Linked DNA regions of Homo sapiens: region 1 is linked to region 2. The links come from fine-mapping of genetic effects on gene expression. A gene starts in region 2. The other region holds a variant in brackets. All regions are shown on one strand. Distances are between the middles of the regions. Region 1 overlaps NIN (ninein). Region 2 holds the start of NIN (ninein).

Region 1 (4,270 bases), 35 kb before region 2:
ATGTTATCTCAGCTATAGATTTTTTAGCACCTTGTACAGCATCAGAATAAAATGTTTCATTAAAGTACAAAAGATGACAATGCTTTGATTTCTGTTGTCTTGCTGTCCACATATTCATACTCTCTCGAGAACAGATATGTATTCTGTTTGAACATGAGTCTTAGCAAGGTATGTCTGAACTCAGACATGTAGACTTTTAAATGAGATTATGTACACGTATTATAAAAACGACAATAGTTGATTAGATAAGAACTAAAAGAACGACCGTTCCTTTATCACCATTGAAACCATGCTGGGGTTTAGCCATTACTTTACAGTTTCCCAGGGAGGACTGGCGACCCTCTTTGACTAAACACCTCCCCGCCATGTCCTTCCCTCTGGGACAAGCTCGGATTTCACTATCTTCACAAATGTGGCCAGACACATTCTGAACATGCTCAGCAAAGCTCAGAGTGAAGTATTTATGGTAGCTATATAATTTCTAGTGATATTTATATCCAGCTTTAAAAAAGTCCCAGTGAAGTCATTTTATTAGGTCGAGTGATTCTCTTACAGGAAGTGTTTAAGCATACAAAATTTATACTGAAAATTGCATGCATATTTGAAGGTACCTTTTATCAGAAGACAGTGTGTCAGCTTGTGACCATTCAGGAGCGGCCCAGACACCCGAGCTACTTGTTGGCAGCTGACACCCACAGATGCTAGTCAGATAAGAGGCAATGCAGAACCATCCTTAATTTATTACATATTCTTAAATTTTGGTGGCAGACAACAAGATACACCATTAGTGACTATAGGGGTTTGGAAAAGATTAAAAGGAACACTTAGAACCTTGGATAATGAACCACAGTATTTTCCCAGTATAAGAACAAAGTTGTGTCCTGGGGATGGAAGTGGCGAAGGAGCTCTTATTGCATGCTGCACTTATTCAGAGGTTAAAAAAAAAAAAAAAAAAAGCAGTGGGAGAAAACAACTATCTTTTAAAAATCCATTGTGATCTAATCCCAAACCTACCGGTGGATGAAATGGTTCCCTGGTTGTTTACTACTCACTACCCCACGTAGTGCATAGGGTAGATGCAGTGGTGGATTCAAAACAGCTCTTTTTCTAAGCAATAAAAGGTAACAGATTGTGAGCCAGCAGGGACCCTGTGGAGTTTTGGTTTATTTACTCATTTATTTTTGCATTGCCAGGCATTAAATTGTTTATTTCATTATCTTATTATAATAACCAATTTAAGCAAACTTTAAGTTAATATCCTTCATAGAACGTACGAACATGATAAAGTCAATTTCTAGAGACATCTATTAAACTATGTAACCTTTTTGGAATAAAGACATTAGCACACACAAAGAAAAATGGGTTAAAGTTTTCTCATCACTTTATTTTCCAAACCATGCAAGTGACCAATAACGAAGTGGACTAATCACACCATTTAAAAATAGTCACCTCTAAGAATGACACACTCAGACATCCCTCTCCCATTTAGAGCATCCGCCTCATTGCACTTAACATGATACGATGGGAACAGAGACAGCAAAGCTAACGATGTTCAGAGAGAACATTCACGGTCAACAGCCCTTGCTAGGTTAAGCGCTGAAAACACTATGATTCTCCTCATCAATCTCAATCAGAGATTTAGAACTGAACAGCAGATGTCCACCGAACCATGGGGATTATAAGACACTCTTACCCACTCAAGTTAAAGAATGCCTTGACCCTTTCTGACCATGCCTAATGGAAGAGATCCAAAACTGCAACCCTGGGGCTACGTTTATTTACTTTCTGAGCACATCCAGATGGAACCTTTATTTTTCAGGGTGTCATTCTGGAATAATCTTATCTATGTCAGATAACATGGAGGCTTTTGGTTTATTAAGAAACGAAATTATTGACATCACAGAGCTTCCACAGGTGAGAGTATCTGCTCCAATCACCAGCTCCAAGAAGGGACATGAAATGCCTGGCCAATATGGCGAAACCTGGACTCTATTAAATACAAAAATTAGCCAGGCGTGG[C/T]GGCTCGTGACTGTAGTCCCAGAAACTTGGGAGGCTGAGGCAGGAGAATCGGTTGAACCTAGGAGGCAGAGGCTGCAGTGAGCCGAGACTGCGCCACTGCACTCCAGCCTGGGCAACAGGGCAAGACTCCATCTCAAAAACAGAAACGAAACAAAACAAAAAGAAATGCTATCAAAACAAAGTATAAATGACTGCCATGCTTTCAGTGTTTCAGTGTTTGAGTTCCTTGAAAGTGTATTTATGATTCTCCCTGGATTGTTAAGCTTCTGAGTCATTTTTCCTTCTTTCCCATTTTCCATTTCTCCTATTTGGCATCACTACAAAAATTAAAGTGGGCTTCAAAGGAAAGCAGACAAGCCCAGCTTGCCTGGAGGTGTCTCAGACCCCATCCCTGGAAAGCTTATTATGAGACACACCAATCAGAGGAAGGTGGCTTTGAGGCAGTCCAACCTGACCTAGTTTAATGATCTAGGTTTTATTCCATAAGCCAAATGCTTGGTTATGAGCAGGGGACAGTAGAGAAACCTTGCTTCAACCCTCCACTGGAGTAATGTGGAAGTGAGTGACAGTCTCTACAGAGCACGTGGGGAAAACATCTGATTCGAGAGTTAAAAAGATGAAGAAAATACTATGCCTTCGGGCCTTAGAAATGACAGCTGGGTTGCTCACACGCCACATTTGTTATTTCACATCTCATCTGTCCCAAGAAGAGAAACTCCAGAGCTTCGATAATGTTCCCCTTCCAAATCAGGATAAACCACCATGCACATGTATGATGCTTGACCAGAGGTCTTGCACTCATAATAAAAAGAAAGTTAAAATATGGTGTCAGGGAGAATGACCACTCAGAGTAGATAAGCCAGCTGCAGCCAGGGGAAATAACAAACACCCGCCTCATTCCTCTCCCAGTTCCTTTCCCAGCAGCAGTGTGGAGGGGAGAAACACAGCCTCCCCTACTCCAGGTTTCAAGCAATACAGAGTACACTTTTTAAAGCTCTCCCCTAAAACTGACCACTGCACCAGATCACCACATCTGCATCAGATGTGATACAGGTCACTGCTTAAAATGCTCAGCTCTCCTAAAACCACTGCATGAACAGCCAAAGCCAAAGCAATGAGGACCTAAGGGAAGCTAAAATCATTATGCAAAAGCCTGAACACTATATATTCAATTGAATGCTTTCTTTGCAAAAACATAAGCTCAGGACCTGGAATGGAGTGGCAGCCATAGCTGCTTCCTGGAAGTTAAAGGAGATTTTTCAAAGATGCTCCCCAGTGTTAGGCAGATTCATTTAACACATAAGCGTATTTACCAAACACCTGCCATAGGCAAAACATTACGTTGTACCTATTGAGGAAGAAGATGGATATTTTAACTTGTTTTTTGAATCAAAAAATTCCCTGTTCCCAAAAATGACCTGAGGCCATTTCCAAGGATGAAGAAGAAAACCCTGTCGTTAGGGTGCTGGTATTCTCATTTTGGAATTGCTCGCATAGGACTTTGCTTTCTATGTCCCTTCCTGACTCATTTAGTGAGCCTGGGAAATCATTCCCAGAGACACCACCCCCATCCAAAGAACCTCAGCACAGGAGGCCCTTCATGTTACATTGCTGCTGAGCTCACAGGAATGCTGAAATCCGTTTGAAAAGGAAAGGTAAAAAATGAAGCATGTGCAAACCTCAAGGCCAGCATCCCCAAGAAGCTTTCTTGGGAAAAGGCAGTCATGCAGCAAATGAGCCCCACCCTGCCCCATTCTACATCCCACCTCCTCGCCTATGCTGAATGCACCATCACACAGGGATTACACAGTGAAAATGCAAACCCACGCCTGATTCTAAATAAGAGAAGGGAAGAAAATCCAAAGGAACACTAAGACCAAGAAAAATACAGACAGAGACCAGTGGAAACTGACACAGAGAGACAGATATGGAGAGAGAATGAGACAGAGACTGAGACCAAGAGAGGGAAAGAAGTGGGTGGGGAAACAGGAGATAATAGGGACCTAGAGGCCTATGGAGGGGTGGGGAAGGGGAGCAAGAGATATAGATGTGGGAAGACCACCAGGAAGGGAAAGAGTGGAGTGGGAGACTGAGGAGGAGGAGGGGAGAGATGAGCTGGGGTGGAGGAAAGAAGGGAGTTGGGAGGGGAACGTCTCAAGGATGGGAAGGGAGAAGGGGAGGCCAAGAAAGGTTAAACATTAAAAAGGCATCAGCAGAAGCTTTCTGACATGATCTGCCTTTCCTTTTGCTT
Region 2 (4,270 bases):
AAGAAATAAGAAAAAAGAACCCCACGCCATTCTGAGCAAGTGCCTATTAAAATGACTGATCCTTGACATTTTAATGCAGACTGTATGATGGCTTCCTCTCTATTGCCCCCTGTGAAGCCTTTCCCTGTATTGGTAATAACTTTGCCGATGTCCAACCCTGTGGAACATTCATCCTACCTTTTCCCCACTCTGCAGAATGCTTCCCTCTAAAGAATCACCAGAGAACAGGGAAAATAAACAAATCTGCAAACAAATTCCCGGGCAGTTCACATCACCTCCCAAAGGACACTGACAATAGCTGAAGAGACCACAACACACAAACTCGTTTTTCAGCCAGCCTGTAATGTTCCTCCTATACACACTCTGGAAATCCTCAGCTCCCTTCAACTCCGGAGCAAGAGCCACCAATATTCCAGGTCAGCCACCTATATAATATGCTCACCACGAGAGAAGACTCAAGGTAAAATTAAACTGACAGAAAAAAGGAATTTTCCTTGTTAGATCATCAAGCCTCCGGAATCATGCAAACATGTGTGTATGTTATGGTGTTTACGGGGACCTAACTGAGAAACGTCGTGGTTCCAGGGGCTTCCCTCATGTGTCAGGATGGACTTTATCAGGATTCTCATCCTACAAAGCTACCATGTCAGTCACAAAAGACAACTACGCAATCTGTTTCGATGTAATAAATTCAGGAGTTGAGCTGTATGGCAAGCCCATCTTAGAAGTCCTCAACACCAGGAGAGGATCTGTCCTAGTTAGGAGCAGAAAGCAGATCTCATAATATCCAAGTTGTCTGGAAACATGATATATGGTAGGGCAGTCTTTCCAGCTCCCATTTTGTTGGTGCCTTCACCTCGGGTTGTCAGGGCTGGGGTTAGGGAAATTGCCTCTTTCCGTCTCTATCTCTTTTAACTTCGCAGCGAGAGCTGGAAGCAGTGACTGTTCCCATCACCTAGTGTCCTTCTGTCAGGGGCCGCTTCGGTAGCTACAGAAGCCTAGCCGCTGGAAGCTTCCTTCCCCGACACTCCATACCTCCATGCCACACCTTTTAGGCAATAACCAAATGTCATTTTGTTCTTTCCCCTTCTCCTGGGCATTATACTGGGAAACTGTTTACGCGCATCGACCCCGCACACCTCCAAAAATCTCCACTTTCCGGGCTCCAAGCAGCTCTCCGCTACTCAGACAGCCCAGGCTAACACCTCGGATTTCCCCATGCAGTTTCCTCTGCAGCGTCTCAATCACAAGGCTGTACGGGCGGCACATGCCAACGGAACCACCACCCCTTCTGCTCCCTCGGGGACTCAAGCCTGCTCTCGGTCAAAGCACAGAAGCGGCTTTCAGCTCCGGGCAGGCGGCCGGGGCGTCGGGGGTACTGGAAGTGCCCAAACCCAGCGGTGCTGCCGCGCGGGGAAGCGGAGGTGCGGCCGCAGGACAAGCGCGCCTCCCAAGTCCCTGGCCACCTGCGATGCGTCCTCAACTCGCCTGCCCATCGCCACTACCAGAAACCTCAGACAGCCCATTGTGTGGGCAGGCAGCGCGCTCCCCCGGCCCCGCCGCCCTCGCCTACCTTCTGTCGGTCTCTCCGGAGCGCCCGCACAGCCGGCAGCCCGCCTCCAGCGCTCTGCAAAGCGAAGGAGGACGCTTTGTTAGGGCTGGAGAAACGGGACAATACTTCGCAGCCGGCGCAGCGGTTCCGGGCGGGCGTCCTTCAAAAGGACGCGAATGGGGACCCGCGTGAGCGTCATTTCCATATGTAAGGGGCCAGCTCTTACAAAAGCGCGGCTCTCGGGGGCCGCGGGCTGCAGCGCGCATCCTCCCCGCCCCCGCCGGCCCGCCCCCGCCCGCGCAGCCCGCGCCTCCGGGACCGGCCCCTCCTCCCGCCTCCGAAGCAGCCCCGTCCCCGCCTCGTCCTCCCGCCCGGCCGCTGCTTCCTCCCGGCCCGCAGGGATTGCGCCCCGCTGGCCCCGGACCCCAAATGGGAAGCCCCCGAGTGATCCGGTGCCCAGTTCGCTCCGGGCTCTCAGGGCCTCGCCGACGGCGCGGGGGCAGCGCGAGGCCTCCGTGCACCCCCAGGCCGTGGGTCCGGGTCCCCGGGGTTGCGCCACTTACTGCGTCCCGGGGCTCAGGCGCCCGGCGCCGCCGCGGGAACCATGGCCGCTGGCGCACTCCGGGCTTGGCGGCGGCAGCGGGACGGCCGCGCCCAGCGCGCTCGGCTCCCGGCTCGGCCGCGGCCACCCGGAGCTCTGGACGCCGGGGAGGAAGGGCCGGGCCCGCGCGGGGAGGAGGAGTCAGGGCGACGCCGGCCCCGGCGCGGCTCCTCCTCTGCGGCCCGCGCGGCTCAGGCAGCGGAGGGAGGAGCGGGCGGCGCCGCCTGAGCCCTCGCAGACGCGCCCTCCCGCTCCGAGCGCCCGCCTCCGAGATCTGAAGTTAGAAACGCCGGGGCTCCGGGTGCGGGTGTAGGAGGCTGGCGCCCCGAGGTCGCCACCGAGCTGGGGCTGGCGCTGCCACCCTCGCCCCTTGCCTGTCCGCCTCCCTTTCTTTCCCAACACGCCTACACTCACCCGCACCGCGGACACTCGGGCCGCAGCGTCTTCGCGCAGAGGAAGGGCCCCCGCCTTCAGCAAGCGGGACTTTAAGGGGGTGATTTCCCAGCCCTCGGGTGTCGATTGGCCATCAACATTGGAAAGGGTGTTCAGGAGGCAGAAGGGCTGTAGAAGTGACTCGGAACCCTGTAGAGCGAGCGCGACCCTCCTGCCGGGTCTACACTGGCTTCCGCACCTGCCCACCACGTCCTCACAGGCTCCCGCCCCTGTGCAGCCTTCTCCGGGTGAAGCTAACCCTCGGTCGCAAGCCACACAGGACGAAAACTCCTTGGAGTTGGTGGTTCCCAGCCCAACAGTTGCTCGATATTAATCGCCTCCTACCTACTACCCCAGAGTCTGCGTTCTCACTCCCCCATCCCTACACTTCTGATCTCATTGCAGTCAAATAGGATCCCAAGTCCAGGCCATGGTTCTTTTTGAGCTGCAGGGTTAAATGTGTTGCCCTTGAAGGATCCGCCTGATGGATTACAACCCACAAGTCTGGTTATTTTAGCAGGAAACTGGTGATTCCTTTTCTACCGAGAAAGCAAGCAACAGACAAGAGGAAACCAGCATTCCTTGAGAATCCAGTGCGCTAGAAACTCGACAGAAATTATCTTATCTAATTCTCACATCACTCTTAGGAGGCAGACATTATTTTGCAGATGAGGAAAATGGATCTCCCAGAAGTCAAAGAGCTTCCTCAGGATCACACAGCAGGAACTCCACAGAACTGAGATTCAAAAGCAGATCACATATGTGGCAAAATTGCATAGAACTGAATATACACTCACAAATGAGAGCACGTGAAACTCATGAAATTTGAATAAGACATTTGGACTACACTAATGTCCATTTACTGATTGTAATATTGTTCTACAGTTATGCAAAATGTTACCATTGAGAAAAATTAAGTGAAGCGTCTATAGGGAATCTCTCTATTATTCCTTACAACTTCAAGCGAATTTACAGTTACCTCAAAAAATTTTTTTAAAAATTTTAAACATCTCAGTCTTATTCAAAAGCCCAGGCTCTCTTCTTTCAACACGGTATATAAGCGTGCCTGCAGAATAAGAGAGATTTATGCTCCTCTCTCCTTTTTAAACAGTCTTGAATAAGTACACATACACACACAAACACACACTCATACACTGTATGCATGGTTGTTCAGTCATCCAGTAATATGATACAACACACACACACACACACGCAGTTCATTAAGAGGATAGCTAACCTGTTACCAGAATACTTACATAGAGGTCATCTTGTAAGACAGACAATAATGCTCACTGGGCACTAAAACAGCCAACAGTCTTGGAAGGTAAGAATGAAGAGGTGTCTTTCTTGTTTCACCTAATCTCTGCCATGGAAGCCTCATCCTACTGGTTACCTCTCCAAGCATCGCTTTTTAACCTGCAAGAATCCTTAAGGATGATATTGATCATTAGTTTAAAACAGTGATTCCTGGGGGTCAGGGGATATTGGAAGTGGCATTCACTCCCTGTGCAGGAAGATCAGAATTGCTGGGGGTTGTGTAATTTGAAAAACACAAGATGCGCTTTCTTGAGAGGAGTAAGTGGGGTGGAGTTAGCCCTGGGACTGGGAACTGGGATCACCTCCAGCCTTGCTACAAAGGAGGGAAAGCATGGAGCATGGTTACCGCGTGGTGTGGGTTGGCAAGA

What was found. PIP is the estimated chance that this variant, and not a neighbour inherited with it, causes the effect.
Region 1: its variant is the best candidate, but not a certain one, in a credible set for the expression of NIN in whole blood (INTERVAL, PIP 0.84).

The regions. Positions count from the first base shown.
Region 1 is chr14:50,793,825-50,798,094 of GRCh38, forward strand. All of the region lies in intron 4 of NIN (ninein), which reads right to left. Among named protein-coding and RNA genes, the nearest start is that of NIN, 35 kb to the right of the region's middle. The variant C/T (reference allele first, on the strand shown) is at 2,020.
Region 2 is chr14:50,828,891-50,833,160 of GRCh38, forward strand. It overlaps NIN (ninein), which reads right to left and starts at 2,272. Exons shown (of 31, transcript NM_020921.4): 1 at 2,116-2,272; 2 at 1,574-1,627. RefSeq lists an enhancer at 954-1,003 and silencers at 1,574-1,693, 1,714-1,763, 1,834-2,113, 2,164-2,613.